Regions from separate parts of the Homo sapiens genome. Here region 1 is linked to region 2. Evidence: fine-mapped expression QTL. A gene starts in region 2. The other region holds a variant in brackets. All regions are shown on one strand. Distances are from middle to middle.

Region 1 (5,399 bases), 76 kb before region 2:
AAACAATTTTCTGAAGAAAAGAGTCCCCTTACTATGTCATTACTCTGAAATGAAGTCTAAGGGGGAGGGAGGCAATAAATGGAGAGCCTGTGGCCTTCTTTTCTGGACCAGGATCATTTCTTATAGCTGAGTAATCATACCCTTAGCCAATATGATGTGAGAGTTTGCAGCTTTGCTACTGGGCAAGGAACGAATTCTGAAACCATGCTGCACTGAAGACGGCAACAACTGACAAGAGTGTCAGTGAGTGTTTTCTCTATATGAGTGAATAAACAAATGAAAACAAATAAATTACTCATTTACTTGTGTGATTTTGATAGGCTATGAATCAATTCTCACCAGGAAGAAAATGTGCCTTGGGTGGGGAAGGGTATGCCCTAAGCTAGAAATTGCTATGGCTCTGGTAGGAGAGCGAGCACAAAATTCTTATGACATTGCCATTTCCTGCCATCCTGTATTTCTCTCTGGGACTTCACAGCTGGGCAGCATATTACTGGAGCCCACTTTTCCAGAACCATTTCTACTCATGTGTGGAAGGCAAGAGAAGGTAAGTATGTCCATTTTCATCCCCCTGTCTATATTGAGTAACAGATATTTATGGAGTTCGAGTGGGAAAAAAGGTACAGGGAGAGAGAATTCTATTAGTTGAGGAGCTGAAATGTAATGCAGATCAAAGGTACAGGGATAAAATAAATTTCTATGGCTATTTCAGGTAAAATTTGATATGGCTAATTTTCATATGCACCATTTCTGATGAGATGTCCAAGCACGAGTTTTCAGAGTAACAATGCAATTATTTCCATTATCATTTTGAATTTATATTGTTATTCTTCCTTTAAGGAGTTTGAGTACCTCATACAATGTTGCAATTACTTTCAGAAATGACTCACTATAGTGCGAACAGTATTTCATAATAATGCAGCCAATAAAATAAAAACAAATATAAATTTCACCTAGGCAAATAAACATGAATGCATTCAGTTCCTCTACATTATACTTTTTCAATTTACAATGAAATAATTCACATATAGTAATATTTATATATGATATTAACATAGGGGCAAATGAAACATAGTTGATAAAGACACAATCCTGACTTTTAAAAAAATTTAAACCAACCTTAACAGAAATTATGTTTTAGAAGGCCAATAAATATAGATTTAGAGCGACTATTTATACATTACATATGTGGTAGCTATTCTGGAGTTTTAGGTAAGTTAGGGTGGACACATGTTTATAGGATCACAGAACAGAAATTTCAGAGATGAATGGGTCCAATCACTTTAGCTTACAGATTTATTAGTAAAGGCTTTAGCCCCTAACTTGCCGATGAGGAAATGAAAGCTGAGAGGGTTCACTGTATCTTATTTTTTCAGAACTTGTTCAAGCTTGTTGGGAGTTAGAAAATAACGAACATCCTAAATTATTGTAAGAAAATTTGCAATTAGGAAGAGGAAGGGCTTCCATATAGCTTATGTGCACTGCAGCTTTCATTCATTCAGCACAATTGTACTGCATACCTGACGTATTATACATTGCACTAGGTACAAGAACTATAGCAGTGAGCTAGATTGGTATGATTCCTAAATTCATGAACCCCACAATCCACTGAGAGAAACAAACAAGGAGAGAGGGCCTTAGAAGACCCCTAGATAAAGATTATATAAGGGAAAAGTACCTAAGGACAGATGAGGCTGTTGTGGTAAACATGTGTGAGACTGCAAAAGACCTTATAAGCCACGATAATAACTTCAGTATTAGTACTAAGAGCAATTGAGAACCACTTAAGAGTTTTATGTAAGAGGTAGACATGAGCAAATCATATTTTATAAATATGTTTCTGACTGAAGGAGGCAAGTCAAGGCAGGCAGGCTGGCCAATGAAAAGGCTTCTACAACACTTTAAGGCAGAACATGAAGTCTTGCACAAGGAAAGTAGCAATAAGGACAGAAAGAAACAGGCTTACTTTTCGAGGTAAGACTGAAAGAATTGGGTGACTGCCTGGATGGGAGGTGTGAGGGAGATGAAAA[C/T]GGAAGGAGGGTGTGCAAGTTTCTGTTTTAGTAAGTGGGTGAACAGGAAGCCATTCAACATAAAAAGGAACACAGAAGGAGGAGAAGAGGAGGATTTGAGTGCAAGCAGGTTATGTTCACAGGCATCACTCCAAACTAACTCCTCCCACATACAAACTCCCATATATGCCCCTTGCCTACAAGTGGAAAAAATCATTCATTTTACAGTGAAGTAGAATGATTCCCTGTAACTTAGGCAATATTATAGAGTAAAATCTTAATTATGTATATCTTTTATTCGTTTAGTTTATCTGTGGTATATCTTGATTAAACATTAAGTAGACTGCTTATTTTTTTTTTCTTTTTTAAAAAACAAGTCTGGTTTACCACCTCATATAGCTTTCATCTTACCAAGAAAATTCTTTGAAAGACAAACATGTAAAAAGTTCCCTCATATCAAGGAGGTCTTGACCTAGGGGTCAAGTCAGGAAAACTGGACATATTTCCAGCTTCTCAAGTCATATATTCACAGCAAAACTTCATTATTTTGCTGGCAATTACTTTTCAGAAAAGTAGGCATATCCATAATCAAATATAAGTACAAACAGGCCAGGTGTGGTGCCTCACGCCTATAATCCCAACACTTTGGGAGGCCGAGGGAGGCAGATCACTTGAGGCCGGGAGTTTGAGACCAGTCTGGACAACATGGCAAAACCCCAAAAATACAAAAATTAGCCAGGCATTGTGGCGCATGCCTGTAATCACAGCTACTCAGAAGGCTGAGGCACGAAAATTGCTTGAACCTGGGAGGCAGAGGTTGCAGTGAGCCGAGATTGCATCATTGCACTCCAGCTTTGGCAGGAGAGTGAGACTCTGTGTCAAAAGAAAAAAAAATTGTGTGTGTATATATATATACACACACACATACACACACACTTATGTATGTACAAATTACATTTTAAATGCAAATATAAATGACTCCTGGATTAATCTTTGAATCACTGAACTCTGTTTTTATCATAAGTTGACTATTTAAAAGGCTTTTGGAATGATTTCTTGGATATGAAATGAAAAGCACAGACAACAAAAGCAAAAACAGACAAATGGAACTACATCAAACTTTAAAACTTTTGTGCATCAAAGGACACAGTCAACAGAGTGAAAGGTAATCTATGGAATGGGAAAAAAAATCATATATTTGATGAGGGGCTAATATAAAGAATATTCAAAAACCTCTTATATGCAACAACAACAAAAAACCAAATAAGCCATCTAAAAATTGGCAAAGGACTTGAATAGATATTTCTGCAAATATGACATACAAATGGCCAACAAGCTTGTGAAAATGCAAATCAAAACCACAGTGAGATATCATCCCACACCCACCCATTAGGATCACACCTATCAAACAAAAGAAAACACAAAAATAATAAGTGTTGTCAAAGATGTGGAGAATTGGAGCCCTGGTGCCCTGTTGGTGGCACTGTAAAATGGTGCATCCTCTATGGAATACAGTAAGGAGGTTCCTCAAAAAATTAAGATTAAAATTACCATATGATTCAGCAATGCCATCTCTGGGTATATACACAAAGGAATGAAAACCAAAGTCTTAAAGAGATATTTTCACACCCATGTTCACAGCAGCAATAGTCACAATAGCCAAGAGACAGAAGCAACCCAAATGTCCATTACCAGAAGAATGGACAAACAAATGTGATATGTACGTACAATGAAATCTTATTCAGCTTTAAAAAGGAAGGATAGCCTATCATGTAATAAAACATAGATGAACTTTGAAAACGTTATGCTGAGTGAAATAAGTCAGTCACAAGAAGACAAATACTGTATGATTCCATTTAAATGAGGTATCTAAACTAGTTAATATCATAGATACAGCAAGTAGAATGGTGGTTACCAGTGGCAAGAGACAGGAGGAAAGAGGGAGCTTTTTTAAAATGGGCATAGAGTTTTAGATTTGCAAAATGAAAAAGTTCTGCAGACCTGTTTTAAAACAACGTGAATATACTTAACACTACTAAAAAGTATACTTGCAAATGGTTAAGAGGGTAAATTTTGCTGTGTTTTTCACCACAATAGAAAAAAGGGCCACTTATTGTTTGAGTCTATCTACATGAAATGTCCAAGACAGGCAAATCAGTAGAGACAGAAAGTAGATTGGCAGTTGCTTAGAGCTGAGGAAACTGGCGGTAAATGGAGAGTGAATGCTAATAGGTAGAGGGTTTCTTTAGGGGGTAATGAAAATATTCTTGTATTAAATATTGCGGACAGTCCCAGAACTCTGTGAATATATTAAGACCACTGAATTGAATGATTTAAAAAAAAAACTTTTCGATGCTAGTGATTGACACACTTGTGTTGCCTTTTATATAGCCTCTCTCAAACACCAAAGACTCTTAAGCAATTCCCCACTTCAAACACTCTTAAGAAATATTATAAAGTAGTTCCTTCAGATATCTCAACAACTATTTTCTTAGATCCAATGCATTCAACTCCCTAGGAATCCTCAGACAACAAACTAAAATGTAGCACTAATAATGTTATGCTAAGAACAATGGCATAATGCCAGAAAATTTCAAGGATAAAAATATGAAATTCTCTTGCCTGAGATTTAGTGTGCATTGCAAAAAACAACTATATGTATCAGCCAGCTTGAGTAAGATGTTTTGACATCTTATCTCAACATCTAAAATTAAAACTACGTCTTCACTTTGCACTAAAAGCCTTGTGTTTCATCTAGGTTAAACTCAGATAAGAATATAGAATGAAGATTAGCTACATGGATGTTACTTGAATATTGTCTTCCTTCCCTGTCAAACTTGAAAAAAAGTCCAGTAATTATATATATAATAATTTATATATAAATTAATATATTTATATTTTTATATGATATATATTTTTATATATTTATATTTTATATAATATATATTTTACATTATATTTCAGATAATTATATATAATAAATATATATATTTATGTAGTTTATACTATATATTTTATAATATATATTTTATGTATTTTATATTATATATGTATATATTATATATTATAATATATAGTATATATAATATATAATACATACATATACATATATGTATATATGTACTATATATTATATATAATATATACATATATATAATGCATATATATTATGTGCATATATACATATATTAAACATATATAATATATAAATTATATTTCTATATTATATATAATTTTATATATATTTATATATAAAATATATATATTATATATATTATATAAATATAGTTTATATATGCATATATAATATATACTATATAATATATAATATATACTATATATTATATATAATATATAGTATATATTATATATAATATATATTATATAATA
Region 2 (5,399 bases):
ATGCAGAGATAATACTTTTAAACCAAGATGCACGATGATACTTAACAGAGATGATACTTAACATGATGCTCAGAGTCTCTAGGAAGTGGCAAGGTAAGGATTCAAACCCAGACATTGTGGCTCTAAAACCCACATTCTACCGACTGTCCAGGCTACTTTTCTAAGAAAAGCACACAGGCGAATAAAGCCCAGGATTTGATGAAATAGCAATAAACAAGTTAAAAATCCCAACCACTAAGTCAGTGAATATCTACTGTACCCAATATTTTCTTATTTGATGATGAAGGCAAAACTCTTTCAGTATAATTTAAGGGTTGTAATTATTCATTTACATTTTAAAACCATTTCAATACATTTCCATTAAAACTCAGTATTCATCTAGGAAACCCTGTAGACATTTCCTACAATGTAGGTAACATGTACAACCATGTAATACTGTGGTTTACAATGTGAAATTTCTCTGAAGCTTTAGTGCCTTCTAAAGGAAGAAACTTAAAAAAAAATGAAGGGAGAGAAGGAGGGAGAGTAAGAAGAAGGAAGAAAAGAAGGAGAAGAAGGAAAAGAAGAATTAGCAGAGACCTGTCAATCATCCAGTAGATGATAGGGTAATATGGTGGAAAAAACCTGGAATACCTGAGGGGCTCTATCCTGGCTTTAATGTGCCAACTGTGTGCTAAGATTCCATGGTTCTCATTTGATGATCACTCACAATTGTATTAATTCAAAAACCCTAAAATCCTTACTGTATTACAATGTAACGTCTTCATATGGTACTTCATTATATAGATGTGATACCAAAATAATTTTTTCATGTATCTTTGGAGAGAGCCACATTTCATATTTACAGTTAAGGACTGAACGCCCTGATAAGTGAAAAAACACCCAAAACACACACTGATTCCATAAAGCTGCTGATGCTCTTGGAACAAGATAGAAATTCCAGTCAAAGAACAGAATCGCCATCCTTTTCATCCAAAGCCAGAGTCATTTTCTCTTTCACATTAAAATCTCATTTCTAGTGCTCCATGATATTAAATTTATAAAAATGAGTATAAAATATTTTAAATTTATCATGTACCTACATTAAAAGGACAATTGCAGGAAGAGCACTCTGATCTCCCACTTTCAAAAGAGTGATCATTTAGTTAAAACAACTTCCTATGAAATAATGTAAGATAACATATAAATGGCTACCTTTAACAATTCTAACTGAATCAAAACTGAAAAGATTTTTTCTTGATTTCTGAAACAGACTGAAATTTAAGATATTAGGTATGACTGCAGTTTCATTTAAAAACCAAGAGAGGAGTTTAATCATGTATCTGACTATCACAACTTACCTTCATTATGGGAGTGCATTATAATTGGTTTGATTACTGGACTTGTCAATTATACAGTCAATACCAATCAATGAAAATTAATCACTTAAGATACCATGGCATAAATAAAAATTCTCTTTTTACAAATAATTATCACAATTTTAAGATTATTCTTCCATATGTGGAAATAAATCCTGCAGATACTGAAATAATTTGGAATATTAAAGAAACTAAGATTTGCTAGATTAAAATTAAGGGGTAAGAAGGATGATTATTACTATTATTAAAAGTACATTAAATTATATGTAAATATACTCTAACACAACATCCCAACACTCAACCATGATCCCTAACATACAGAACTGACTCAGTGCTTTCTGAGTAAATACTAGAGTATCCAGTAAATAATAAAACCTTACAATAATATTCTGAAATAAGTATTAGGTTAAATGAGATGCTACTTTTATCTTGAACTTATTTTGATTCATTTGAATAAATTCTTATAGAAAAAAACATTTGGGAACTGTTTCTAGAAAACTACAGAGTGAAAATATTCAGTATTTAAAGACAAGCCTACTGTTTAAAATTTTTCCTGGTATTATTATTATTATAATAACTGCAAACTATTGTTCTATGTCATGTCAATAAGCACTTAAGGAGCAATTAGATGTGAAGGTTTTGTTTTTTTTTTCCTAAGTAAATCTAATAAGTGCCATTTCTCTTTACTCCACTAGAGGGTAGTCTCTCAAAACTGGGGTTGGAGTCATGACTAGCCTGCTTTTGACCTGTTGATATATTAATCCTCATGTTCCATTCTCCTCAACAAGATGTTTCTCTAGTATACTAATTAAGGTTGTAAAACATGCATTTTTAAAACTGCTTTTTGATTTTTCATGTATGTTCTTTCAGAAATATGCACTGCTATGTGTTTCTGTGTTTTCCAAATTTCTGGTAATTAATAAAAATGTTTTACATGTATGGCTTATATAGTATATTTTCCTGGGAAATATCCTTTCAGAGTTAATAGGCCTAAGAATAAAGATAGTCTTTTAAATAATTTAACTTATTACAATCGAAATATTTCCCCAGAGTGGTAAAAAATACATCCTAAATACACACACACACTCACAGATACACAAACACACCTACACATGTACCCATTCATATGTAGCTCCTAGATTTATTACATCATATAAAGAGAAGTCAGTGAGTATAATTAGAAATACATATTTTTAAAAAGTACCCCCTCAAATGCCAATGTTGTGAATTACAGAGAGGCAAATATATGCTTTATTTTAAAAATCTGGTCAATCCAGACAAGAAATGTCATTGCTAAAAAAAAAAAAAAAAAAGTGTTATTGAACACCAAGCACATATGCTAAATTAAGTAGGATCTATAGAGAACCAAATGCCACTCAAAACAGTTGCAAGCTTCTCTTCTTAAATAATGCAGTCATTGCTGAACTTCAGAGACGGAGTTGGAGGTTTGAGTCTCTACCAGGTGTTTTTAATATTTAGGAAATCCTTATCAGTAGTGTGTCCTCTCTATTTGCAGACTGAAAACATATTTCTCTGAATGACTGATAACCTAAAATTGAGAAAACTTGTCAAAAATTCCCAACATTCCCTCAGAAAGGAAAAAAAAGAAGGAAAATGATACCTAGGAAAACATGCAAGCCTGTTTCATTTATTTGTATCCTAAGCAGCAGTGTCATAGAACAGACAGTTTGTTTCAGCCAACCAGACTGGAGCAGCTGCGAGTGCTACATCTTGGCTGTCTGAAGCGATTGGCTCCTCTCTGGGGAGTGGAGGGTGTTCAGTTATTAATGACCGCTGAGCAGGCAGCACCATGTCAGTGTGACAACTGATCGGGTGAACGATGCACCACTAACCACCATGGAAACAAGGAAAAATAAAGCCAGCTCACAGGATCTCTCTTCACTGGATTGAGAGCCTCAGCCTGCCGACTGAGAAAAAGAGTTCCAGGAAAAAGAAGGAATCCCGGCTGCAGCCTCCTGCCTTCCTTTATATTTTAAAATAGAGAGATAAGATTGCGTGCATGTGTGCATATCTATAGTATATATTTTGTACACTTTGTTACACAGACACACAAATGCACCTATTTATACCGGGCAAGAACACAACCATGTGATTATCTCAACCAAGGAACTGAGGAATCCAGCACGCAAGGACATCGGAGGTGGGCTAGCACTGAAACTGCTTTTCAAGGTAAGTTTAAAATACACATATATTTTAAAATACGTTCTATTTCTTGTCTCTTCGATGATCATGTTTTTACACCTAAATCCTCCTTTGATGTCTTCTTCTTGTCTGAATTCTAAGAGCATTTTTCTTTTATTGCACTTTTGAGAAGAAATTCACATGCAAAACCCAGCTGGCTCTGTGTGTGCCTAGCTGTGTTTGTGAGATTCTCCAACATGCATTTTACTAGCTTGAATGCCCATTAGAGGATGTGAGTGGGAGAGAAAAAGCAGTGTTGGGGGGAGGAGAAAAAGGAGGGAGACAGAAGAGAAGGGAACAGTGGGGGAGAAGAGAGGAGGAGAGGGAGAGAGAAGGAGATGGGGAAGAGAGAAGACAGAGAGGAGACAGAGAGGAGAGGAGAGTCACGGGTGATGGGGTGCAATTTTCCTTTTTCTTCACATTATTTGTAGTGAAAAGCAGATCACACATTATTCTCTGTTTTGAAATCAACCCACCAAATGGGGCATTTTTATTTTGTCTCATCCAGTGGATGCAAATTAAGGCAAATGCTGTTGTATGTTAAGAGCTAAACCACTAAGCAGAGTAGCAGAATGAGCATATCACAAACAGTTATTGAATTTCTGCCAGGCTACATCTTACGGACTGGGGTAAATGACTTCCCTTTAATAACATCCCCTCGCTGGTCTGAAGGGACAGTGCAAATGTCTGATTGCTAATGCAGCTGGAACTGCCACACACTAGGTGAAAGGATCCCATGAACCAGAAGAGTTCTAATCTTTGGTAATTAACAGGATCACAGCAGGATGGCTTTAAAGTACATTTCCTATTTAAGAAAATTGTTTGTTCTAACCAACTGCTATATTCCCTTTGCTGTTGTTGAGCTGGATGGCTTAATTCGGCTCTAATTTATTCATTTTTAACAATATGTCCTTGTTTCTCTGCCTCTAATTTCAGTGAAAGCAGGCTATGAATATGAGTAGAACCGTCCTAATTTAGTGAAAAGGGGATAATGTGAAAACAAAAATAGAAGTAAAGGTTCAAAATATCTACCTAGAAAATAGTGTGCTCTGGTACCATAAATATTACTGATATATTTCTCATCTTTAGTTTCAGAAGCAATGCCTTTGAGACAGAATTACTCTCAGTAAACTCTATGAGCATCCATGTATTGATGATTCATGGAATTCAGTGTGGGTTAATTTTTACTTCCAATCTTGTAAAGGGAAGCCAGCTACTTAGAATATGCTTTCAAACAGACAACACCAATTGAGGATATTCATGGAAACATTCACTGCCCTCTTTACTGGGTCCTGGAAAGACAGTAAAAGAAACCTAGCATTTGTATTTCATCTTCTGGAGCTCTCTCCTGCCTTCTTTTAGTTCAACTAACCACACAGTTAACAGAGTCAGCTTCTTTGAAACTGTGGGTTATTTTTTTCCACAACTGTGATTTCAGAGCTATTATTGGTTTCCTAGTTTGTAATATAAGCCAAAGCAAAAAGACAATAACCAGCCACTTAGATCCTGCCACTTTCCCATAAATGTGTCAAAAAAATGAGTCAGTTTACAACATGTAATATAAGAAGTCAATTAATTCCAGTGACCTTTGTAAATGATGACAATAAAGCAGCTCTGACAATATGCCAGTGGCTTCGATTTTCTCTCTGTAAGATGAACAAGTTTAAGAAGAGGGTTCCTGCTCAGAGAAAAATGAAAGGTGCTGAAGCATCAGCTTGCAATATTGGCAGCTTTGCTCGCTCTGCCTCAAATGCCACATGCAATCTATAAAAAAAACCAAAATGATTTATTACAAAAAGGAAAAAGTGTTTTATTTGCTTTTCTGCTATTTATTAAAAG

The links.
Region 1: its variant is fine-mapped to the expression of LRRN3 in whole blood (TOPMed, PIP above 0.99). The same link has a PIP of 0.9 or more in blood mononuclear cells.

What each region holds. Positions count from the first base shown.
Region 1 is chr7:111,011,466-111,016,864 of GRCh38, forward strand. All of the region lies in intron 3 of IMMP2L (inner mitochondrial membrane peptidase subunit 2), which reads right to left. Among named protein-coding and RNA genes, the nearest start is that of LRRN3, 77 kb to the right of the region's middle. The variant C/T (reference allele first, on the strand shown) is at 2,031.
Region 2 is chr7:111,087,957-111,093,355 of GRCh38, forward strand. It overlaps LRRN3 (leucine rich repeat neuronal 3), which reads left to right and starts at 3,171. Exons shown (of 3, transcript NM_001099658.2): 1 at 3,171-3,548. All of the region lies in intron 3 of IMMP2L (inner mitochondrial membrane peptidase subunit 2), which reads right to left.